2 separate regions of the Homo sapiens genome follow, and region 1 is linked to region 2. The links come from fine-mapping of genetic effects on gene expression. Tissue or cell type: whole blood. Region 2 holds a variant in brackets; the other region holds the start of a gene. All regions are shown on one strand. Distances are between the middles of the regions.

The links. PIP is the estimated chance that this variant, and not a neighbour inherited with it, causes the effect.
Region 1: MICU2 starts here. The variant in region 2 is fine-mapped to the expression of MICU2 in whole blood (TOPMed, PIP above 0.99).

The regions. Positions count from the first base shown.
Region 1 is chr13:21,601,825-21,606,824 of GRCh38, reverse strand. MICU2 (mitochondrial calcium uptake 2) reads left to right here and starts at 2,655. Exons shown (of 12, transcript NM_152726.3): 1 at 2,655-2,886. The coding sequence starts at 2,677. RefSeq lists enhancers at 2,472-2,541, 2,323-2,941, 2,942-3,561 and a silencer at 2,712-2,921.
Region 2 is chr13:21,498,383-21,503,382 of GRCh38, reverse strand. MICU2 (mitochondrial calcium uptake 2) reads left to right here. Exons shown (of 12, transcript NM_152726.3): 9 at 286-457. Among named protein-coding and RNA genes, the nearest start is that of ZDHHC20, 42 kb to the right of the region's middle. The variant T/C (reference allele first, on the strand shown) is at 1,885.

The DNA.
Region 1 (5,000 bases), 100 kb before region 2:
ATGCTTTTCTGCCTGTGCCAGCCCACCTCACCCTTGCTTCTCTGTACAGTATAAAAGTCAGAGACAATTGTTTTGAAATTCAAGCCTAGCCTCTCCAGTGAAAATAAAGCTCCTTAAGAGCAGTTTTTCTGACATATCACTTTCGTTCTTCTTCAGAAAAAAAGAGCAGGAGTAAGTGAATTAAGAATACTTTGAAACAATAAGTATTTCCATCCTGTTTTCGTCCAGTTATTTAAAACAGCATACAATGTACAGCTTTAGAAGCAGCTTCTTATTTGGGGGTTGGTTTATAAACTGCATGGTTGAAAATACATCCCAGCCCAGGACTTTACAGCTGATGATGAAGAAATGAACAAAGCTGGAGCCCAAAAAGACCAATATAGTCAATGTGCTTAGACAAATGTCAGCAGCTGCCAAGGAAGATTTCATACTTAGAATGGTTATTCGACTAGAGATTGGTTCTATTATAAGAATTTGTTTCCTCTGCATAAGAAAAGTTTGAATACATTAAATTATAAGTGAGAGTTCTAGATGCCTGGGCACATAATGAAAATTTAAAAAATAACTAATTACACTGTTTTCCAAGTGGGTTCAAAGATTTTTGGCAAAATAAAAAGAAGCTTTTGTTTTGAAAATAAAGTACCCCAAAGGAATAATATACTTCTGTATTTTGGATGGCCAAAGCATAGAAATATGAACCCCTGAGTTTCATTTGTGCCATTTATTTATTCACTTATTTACTCACTCATTGAATGTCTATTACGTGCTGGGCATTGTGCTAGGTGCTAGAGAAACAGGGAAAAGGAAGACATCTCACCCACAAGGATGTCAAATTGTGGGAGAAAGACAATGTTCTTAAATATGCTACATGTTTTAATGGGAATCTAAACTTATCTTGGGCTTAAGGCAATACTGAGTAATAGATGCCAGGTTTCATTAAATACCTAGAGGAACTGTGTGAGGCAGTTAGAAGTATACACGTAAAGACTGTGGTTTCTGGAAATCAAGAATAAACTACAAGGTAAGACATCCAGGGTGTCCAAAATATCCTGGAAGTCCTATTATCACCAGGAAACAAGCTAGATGTCAATAGTCCAGAAAAGCAGGACATGTGCCAAAGCTACCAGAGTTAGCAGAGGTGAAAAACAGTCCAGAGGTTGACAAAGTCAGGCTAGATACAAAAAAGCAGGAAAATCTCAGGTTAAGATGGGCTAGTGATCTGGAATCATGGACATTCAGTCAAGCTCATTTGTGTTCACAGGGCAGAAGTAAACCAAACCTTGACCACAGTAAACGCACATCTGTCATGAGCCTACCATGTGCCAGGCATTTGGCTAGTCACTTTATATAAAATATCTCATTTAGCTTCCCCACCCCAAACTGTAAGAGGGTTGTTCACAGATGAAAAAATTGAGACTCAAAGAGATTAAATACCTTACCCCAAATAGCAGTGATCATCTACCAAATCGTGAGTTATTTACAAATGAGAAAATGGAGACTCAGAGAGATTAAATAATTTGCCCCAAACCACAGTGATCATCCTGGTAGAGCTAAGATTCAAACCTTGAGGTCTGGCTCACAAGTCGGTGAAGTGAGGCTCATCTCTCTACTTCCTACCTGGGAAGGCACACTGAAAAGTAAGTCCAGAAGCTGACGGAAAAGTGAGGAACCTCTGACTGCAGATTAATTTAGACAAGCGGGCTAAGAGAAAGGGAGCAAGGATTAAGGGCAGATAATAACAAAGGGATCCACGGAACTTCCACTGAATGATCAAATTAGATTTCGTGTGACAGGTTTTTGTTTTTGTTTCTTGAAGTTTTGTTTTGTGCAAAACTTCAAGACAGCAGTGATTATGTGATTAGGAGTCTTGGCCCCTTTGATGTTGGCTCCGTTACTGCATGCCCAACTAAAGCTTCTAATAGCTGGGGACATTTCAGAGGCTGAACAAAGAGTTTATTAAAAAGAGTTACTCAGGAAAAGTGAAGACCAAAGAATGGAGGATTGGAGGCTGTTAAATAAAACCAAGTAGTCTGCCTCAGCTACATCACTTATCACCAATGCAACAGCCAGGACTGGAGGTATCGTTCTAAATCTGCACTGGGGAAAACCTCTGGGTCCCTGATGATAGAGACATGGGGCTGGTGTGCTGCTGTCTCTGACTTTTAGTTCTAGGTAGGATAAGAGCTACTATCAAACCTTTTGTTGAAACTGAATTTAAATTCATTATAAGCAAATAGTGAGGGACTGAAATAAACAGAATGCCTTGTCTGAGAGTTGTTTTAGCAGAAATGAAAGAACAGTCAAGACTATAAGCATAGGAAGACATGAACAACACAGATGCAGAAGAGACTATTTCAAAAAACGTTTCACAGTTTTACAAGGTGAAAAAATGAAAAGGAGAAACCTGCCCACACAACCGAGGGCACTATCTTGTTTTGGACTAGGAAGTCATATTATACTGTCTTGATACTCTTCCTGTCATCCCATCCCCACAGCCTTAGAAGGCAGCCCCGGAACCGAAGGCCACCTCTTGCGGCTGCGAGCGTCGCCTCAGCAACCGCACCCACGGCGCAGGCCCGGTAGGCGGGGCGGAAGCCTGTCGGATGTCGCGAGAGTTCCCAAGCGGTAGGCGGCGGCGCCGGGAGAGAAGCGCCGCCTAGCTGCGCTTCCGCAAAGATGGCGGCGGCTGCGGGTAGCTGCGCGCGGGTGGCGGCCTGGGGCGGAAAACTGCGACGGGGGCTCGCTGTCAGCCGACAGGCTGTGCGGAGTCCCGGCCCCTTGGCAGCGGCAGTGGCCGGCGCGGCCCTGGCAGGAGCAGGAGCGGCCTGGCACCACAGCCGCGTCAGTGTTGCGGCGCGGGATGGCAGTTTTACAGTCTCCGCACAGGTACAGGACTAACTCCTTCTGCTAGCCCCAGTCAAGCTCCTCCCTCCCCTGACGCCCTTAGGCGGGGAGTGGTTTGGCTCTGGGCGGCTCTCCCGGAGCCGTGGGTGGAGGTGCCGCTGCGGATCGGAGCGCCCTGCGACTGGTGGGACTCGCTCCTTCCTGGACCGGCCCCCGGCCTGAGTCCCCGAGGGCCTTCGAGGCTGGTGACCGGAGATTCTGCCTCCCTTGGGAGAACCCCGCGGACGCTGAACACCACGGCCCACAAAACTGGCCGCACTAATTTAGTGGTGATGAGTGTGGGCGTGTCTTAATTCGAGGCTCCTAATTCAGAATCTCACTGCGCCTCGCCTCTTGCTACCTCTCTGGTCAGTGAAGTGGCATTCACATCCGCAGGTGGTTTGCGTCCAGTTACCCCTGTGGGATATACCTTTGTTAAGCTTTGCAACTAAGTTTTACGATCTTTTCTTTGTATAGCATGATGAAGTTCTGTCGATTGCTTTTTTAAGTCACGAATGTGTCAGCCACAAAAATTAACCAGTTGATTTCCAGATTTTATTATCAACTTTAAGGAACATTATTGCATGATTATAAACCTTAATATCTTAGTGGACCATAAGTTCTAAGCAAAAATTGCTCCTAAAACCTCCATCTATTAAAGACAAGAGTCCGCCGGGCGCGGTGGCACACGCCTTTAATCCCAGGGCTTTGGGAGGCCGAGGCGGGTGGATCTCCTGAGGTCAGGAGTTCGAGACCAGCCTGGCCAACATGGTGAAGCCGCTCCCCACCCCAGCCCCGCCCCCCCGGTCTCTACTAAAAAATATAAACAATTAGCTGGGTGTGGTGGCGGGAGGCTGAAGTAGGAGAACCGCTTGAATCCGGGAGGCGGAGGTTGCAGTGAGCCAAGATCGAGCCATTGCACTCCAGCCTGAGCTACAAGAGCGAAACTCCGTCTCAAAAAAAAAAAAAAAAGATTCAAGTTCCCTATTTCAGGATAAATGATGTTGTAACGCATTTGAAAATTTGAATGAGTAGTGCTTTAAAATTTTTGTAGACTTAGTAAGTTTTTACATATGAGCTTTTTTGAAAATTGAAAGTAGTAGTTTATTATTTTCTTTTTTAGATTTACATTATGCCTTTCTAGCGAAAAACTCAAGGAACATTCAGATACAACAAAAAAGAGAGGAAAGAAGGCCTTGTGAGTTAAAATTAAGTATTGGCAACTGATATTCCTTATTTGTATTAACATACATTATAATTATATTGTAAACATATATAATGGAAAGATCTATTATCTAGTGTTTTTATAGCATTTTTGTGAATCTTGTGCCAAGGAGTTCAGTGTATTCATCATTAGTTTCTCTCCCCTAGATTCATCCTGGTTTTTTTGTTTGTTTTTTGTTTTTGTTTTTGTTTTTTTTGAGAGGAGTCTCGCTCTGTCGCCCAGGCCGGACTGCAGTGGCGCTATCTCGGCTTACTGCAAGCTCCGCCTCCCGGGTTCACGCCATTCTCCTGCCTCAGCCTCCCGAGTAGCTGGGACTACAGGCGCCCGCCATCGCGCCCGGCTAATTTTTTGTGTTTTTAGTAGAGACGGGGTTTCACCGTATTAGCCAGGATGGTCTCGATCTCCTGACCTCGTGATCCGCCCGCCTTGGCCTCCCTAAGTGCTGGAATTACAGGCGTGAGCCACTGCGCCCGGCCGATTCATCCTGTTTTTAAGACCCTTAGGTTAATCTTCTCCGGAGTATCACTTTAACCACACAGTGTACCCTTCTTCAGAAACCCTTCTTCAGTGTCTCATTTTGCCAAGAGTAAAATGCACTTTTTTTTTGTTGTTGAGATGGAGTCTCTGTCACCCAGGCTGGAGTGCAGTGGCGTGATCCCGGCTCACTACAACCTCTTAACTCCCCGGTTCAAGTAATTCTCCTACCTCAGCCTCCCAAGTAGCTAGGATTACAGGCATACGCCACCACGTCCAGCTAATTTTTTTTTGTATTGTTAGTAGAGCCGGGGTTTCACCATGTTGGCCAGGATGGTCTCGATCTCCTGACCTCGTGATCCGCCTGCCTTGGCCTCCCAGAGTGCTGGGATTACTGGCGTGAGCCACAGCGCCCGGC
Region 2 (5,000 bases):
ATTTTTTTAAGTCTTTAGGTTTATCAGAATGTAGGTTGCCAGGTATAACTTACACAAACAAGTTGAGTATAGAGAGTTACTGATGGAAGCCAGTGTTGGACTTAATCAGTTTCTCTGCATCCTTCCTCTCCCCACAATCCTTGCACAGCACTAATGCTTCATCCTGCTTACCATCAGGAGGCAGCCACTCAGTAGGTAATAGTGAAGGTACTTTGCAGACCCATTTACAATATTTAAGGTTGAATGCCACTAGTTACCTTACTAATTTTGTATTTTAACATTCAGATTTATGGAAAATTTACAAACAGAGATTCAAGAAATGGAATTCCTTCAGTTTTCTAAAGGTTTGAGTTTCATGAGAAAAGAAGACTTTGCAGAGTGGCTACTTTTTTTCACTAACACTGAAAATAAAGATATTTATTGGAAAAATGTGAGAGAGAAGTTGTCAGCAGGAGAGGTTGGTATACCCTTTTATTATGCATGTGATAAAGATGAAATAATAAGTTAGACATGTTTACATAAAGTAACTTCTGAATTAACCAAGACTGTGCTACCCTCGATGGTATATAAAATCAACTTGAGGAATGTTCTCTACATGCTCTTCTCCTGTAAAGGAAAACTGCCTAAGACAGAATCAGTGTAGCAATTACAAGTTTTCCATTTCCAGTAAAGTCAAGAATAAGACAAGTATCACTACTGTTATTTAATATCACTCTGTAAATCTTAACCAGTCCAAATTAACAAGATTATTTAAAAGAGTATAAAAATGTGAAAGGGGGTAGTAGTTGTCTTTGTTTTTATATGATGCAATTATATGCCTAGAGAACCCAAGAGAATCCAGTAGAAAAACCGTAGAAACAATAAGAATTCAATAAAGTACCTGTCACAATGCTAATATATAAGCAGCAGCAGCTCTCCTATATACAAATTACAAGTAGAAAATGTAATGACATGCATATGTGTGTGTATATATATACGAGATGTATGAAATGATGATTGCCAAGCTATTAATAATTATTCATGTACAGTGGTGAGGTTTCAAGTGATTTTTACTTTCTTTCTTTATACCTTTATGTATTGTTCCAAAAAAATGTTTACAATGGACATGTATTTTATGTAACTTTTTAAAAAGTTACTTCTATTGTAAGAAAAAAATAAATTGCAGTAGAAGAACCCAGTTATAACTGCAAGATAAATATATAACAATTAGAAATAAATTTAACAAAAAAAAAGAAGAAAACTTGATAGCCTTGATGGATATAAAAAGAAAACTTATCTAATTATAAGACATCCCCTATTATTGAATAGAAAGTCTTAGAATTATAAATACAGCAATTCTGTCTTCAGTTAGTCTATAAGTGTAATGGTTATATTAGAACAGCCCAAGTTTACTGCAGTTACAAATTAACCCTGAAATCCCCCTGTCTGACACTGAGTTTCTTGCTCAGTCATGCCGCAGTTCCATTGTGGGCTGATAGGAGTCTCTGTCCGCATAGAGGTCTAGACCCATTCAGAGGTCTAGACTCTCTGAGGCTGTGCCATCTTGGAGTTACATCATCTGAAAGAAGTACCACGCTCAGAGGCTGTGGCAGGAAAAGAAGGAGGGGAGTCAAAATCCAGCAACTAAATGTTTTGGCCTGGAAACATCACATGACACTTGGCTATTGGCCAGACTAATCACATAACCCCACCTGAATGCAGGGAGGCAAGGAACTTCAGTCTTTCGTACGTGCAGGAATCAGAAAAGATCCAGATACTGGTGAATACTCGTGGGTTTCAATAAAAATACCATTGAATTATTGGGAAGAAACTAGACAAGCTATAAAACTTTATATGATCACGCCTGTAATCCTGGCACTTTGGGAGGCCAAGGCGGGCAGATCA[T/C]GAGGTCAGGAGATCAAGACCATCCTGGTTAACACGGTGAAACCACGTCTCTACTAAAAATACAAAAAATTAGCCAGGCATGGTGGCAGGTGCCTGTAGTCCCAGCTACTCGGGAGGCTGAGGCAGGAGAATAGTGTGAACCCTGGAGGCAGAGCTTTCAGTGAGCTGAGATTGCGCCACTGCACTCCAGCCTGGGTGACAGAGCAAGACTCTGTGTCAAAAAAAAAAAAGACTTTATATGAAAAGAATGTCAACATATTAAAATATATTATCAAACCTTGGTAACTAAAACAGTTTGTTACTGACAATGAATTTGACAGACTCCAGAAATAGACTTAAGCATATGAAAAATTTAGTAATTATGAAATAGTATTTTAAATTAGTTGGGTAAAAGAATTATTAATAAATGGCAGTAGGATAATTCACTGGCCATCTGAGGGAGAAAATGAACATAAATCTTTACACCATTCATTACTCTAAAATAAATTTAGGATGAATCAAAAAATTAAATGTTGAAAAAATGAAACTGAGTAAGTGTAGAAGAAAACATGGAAACAATGTTTCATCTTAGGTTATATACCTTTCTAAGCAAAACCCAAAACCTTTCAAAGAAAACTTGATGAAATACCTAAAAATTAAAATCTGTTGCCTCACCTCGTCCCCTGCAAAAATTATAATGAGAGTCAAAATAAAAAGTTAACATGAAGAAGGGGGAGATATTGATATGTAAAGACCAATTTTCTTAATTTATAATGGGATCTTTAAAAATCAGTAGGGATTGGCCGGGCGTGGTGGCTCATTCCTGTAATCCCAGCACTTTGGGAGGCCAAGGTGGGTGGCTCTCTCAAGGTCAGGAGTTCGAGACTAGCCGGGCCAACATGGTGAAACCCCATCTCTACCAAAAAATACAAAAAAAAGTAGCCGGGCATGGTGCCACACACCTGTAGTCCCAGCTACTCAGGAGGCTGAGGCGGGAGAATTGGATGAACCTGGGAGACAAAGGTTGCAGTGAGCCAAGGTCACACCTGGGCAACAGTGAGACTCTGTCTCAAAAAAAAAAAAAAAAAAAAAAAAAAAAAAATCAGTAGGTATCAAGAACTTTAAACGGTCTGAGATTTTTTTTTCCCTATTTAATATATCATGAGAACTTGAAAATCAACATGTGAATAACTGTAAAGTGTCTGAAATTTTATCCCTTTGCAGGTTAGCCTGCACAGTTTCATGGATGCTTGCAGAAGATACAAGACTATTGAGTCAGACACAAAGAATTTTATTATCGTAATGTAGCAACAACATGAGTAACATATTTGTGTCAGTTCCCCCTTGCCTCCCAAGCCCCATGGGCATGATGCTGAGAGGCCCAGGTAGATGCTGCCCACACAGCAGATTCACATCACAGCTGAGGACCCTCATCTTAGTGATCTGAATGTTTTGTAATGGGCAAGTAAACAAGCCTTCCTGAGCTTTGCTGCAGTGGGAGGCATTGTGTATTCATGATACTGGACAGTAAGCAAAGCTGTCCTGTGCTCCTGAGGAACAGTGCTGTCCGCTATACAAACAATTCTCCTGCCTCAGCCTCCTGAGTAGCTGGGATTACAGGCGCATACCACCATGCCTCGCAATTTTTGTATGTTTAGTAGAGATGGGTTTCACTGTGTTGTTGGCCAGGCTGGTCCCAAACTCTCGGCCTCCCAAAGTGCTGGGATTACAGGTGTGAAATCCTCGAAGATATAATCTGGAACAAAAATGCAGTCGGTGCCTCTGATAGATGTACAGAAACGTGAGACCCAGCTGGGCACGGTGGCTCAAACTTGTAATCCCAGCACTTTGGGAGGCCGAGGCGGGCAGATCATGAGGTCAGAAGATTGAGAACATCTTGGCTAACATGGTGAAACCCCATCTCTACTAAAAATACAAAAAATTAGACAGGCGTGGTGGCGGGTGCCTGTAGTCCCAGCTACTCGGGAGGCAGAGGCAGGAGAATTGGTGTGAACCCAGGAGGTGAAGTTTGCAGGGAGCCGAGATTGTGCTACTGCACTCCAGCCTGGGTGACAGAGCGAGACTCCATCTCAAAAAAAAAAAGAAATGTGAGACCCATGGAGAACGGTCTCGCACAGTAAGTTACCTAACAACCCATTAGAAATCTGGGCAAAGGACATAAACAGGACACAAGAAGAGAAATCCACAAATGACTAATAAGCATGTGAAAAATGTTTAACTTCATTCACAATTGAAGACATGCAAATTCAGGCCGGGCCTATGGCTCCCACCTGTAATTCCAGCACTTTGGGAGGCCGAGGCAGGTGGATCACCTGAGGCCGGGAGTTTGAGACCAGCCTGGTCAACATGGTGAAACCCCGTCTCTTCTAAAAATACAAAAATTAGCGGGGCGTGGTGGCGCATGCCTGTAATCACAGCTTTTCAGGAGGCTGAGGCAGAAGAATCGCTTGAATGAGGGAGGCGGAGGTTCTGGTGAGCCAAGATCACGCCACTGCACTCCAGACTGGGCAACACAGCAAGACTCCGTAAGACATGCAAATTCAAACATTAATAAAATACCATTTTTCATCTATCAGAAAAGCAGACATCAAAAAAGTTGCATCCAGTGCCTACTTCGAGGTCATGATAGAAGCAGCCACTCTTATTTGTGCTGATAAATACACTGGTTTTTTTTTTTCCTTTTTTCCCTCTCTATCATCTTGTAAATATACTGTTAAGAGAATAAAGCAAGGTACAGAAATATGTGAAGAGATTGTTCCCATTGTGTAAAACAAGGAGACGTGTGTGTACATGTATACACTTTAATAAGAATAGAATATTAGCCAGGCGCGGTGGCTCACGCCTGTAATCCCAGCACTTTGGGAGGCTGAGGTGGGTGAATCACCTGAGGTCAGGAGTTTGAGACCAGCCTGACCAATATGGTGAAACCCCATCTCTACTGAAAATACAAAAATTAGCCGGACGTGGTGGTGGGTGCCTGCAGTCCTAGCTACTCAGGCGGCTGAGACAGGAGAATTGCTTGAACCTGGGAAGCAGAGGTTGCAGTGAGCCAAGATTGCGCCATTGCGCTTCAGCCTGGGTGACAGAGCGAGACTGTCTCAAAAAAAAAAAAAAAA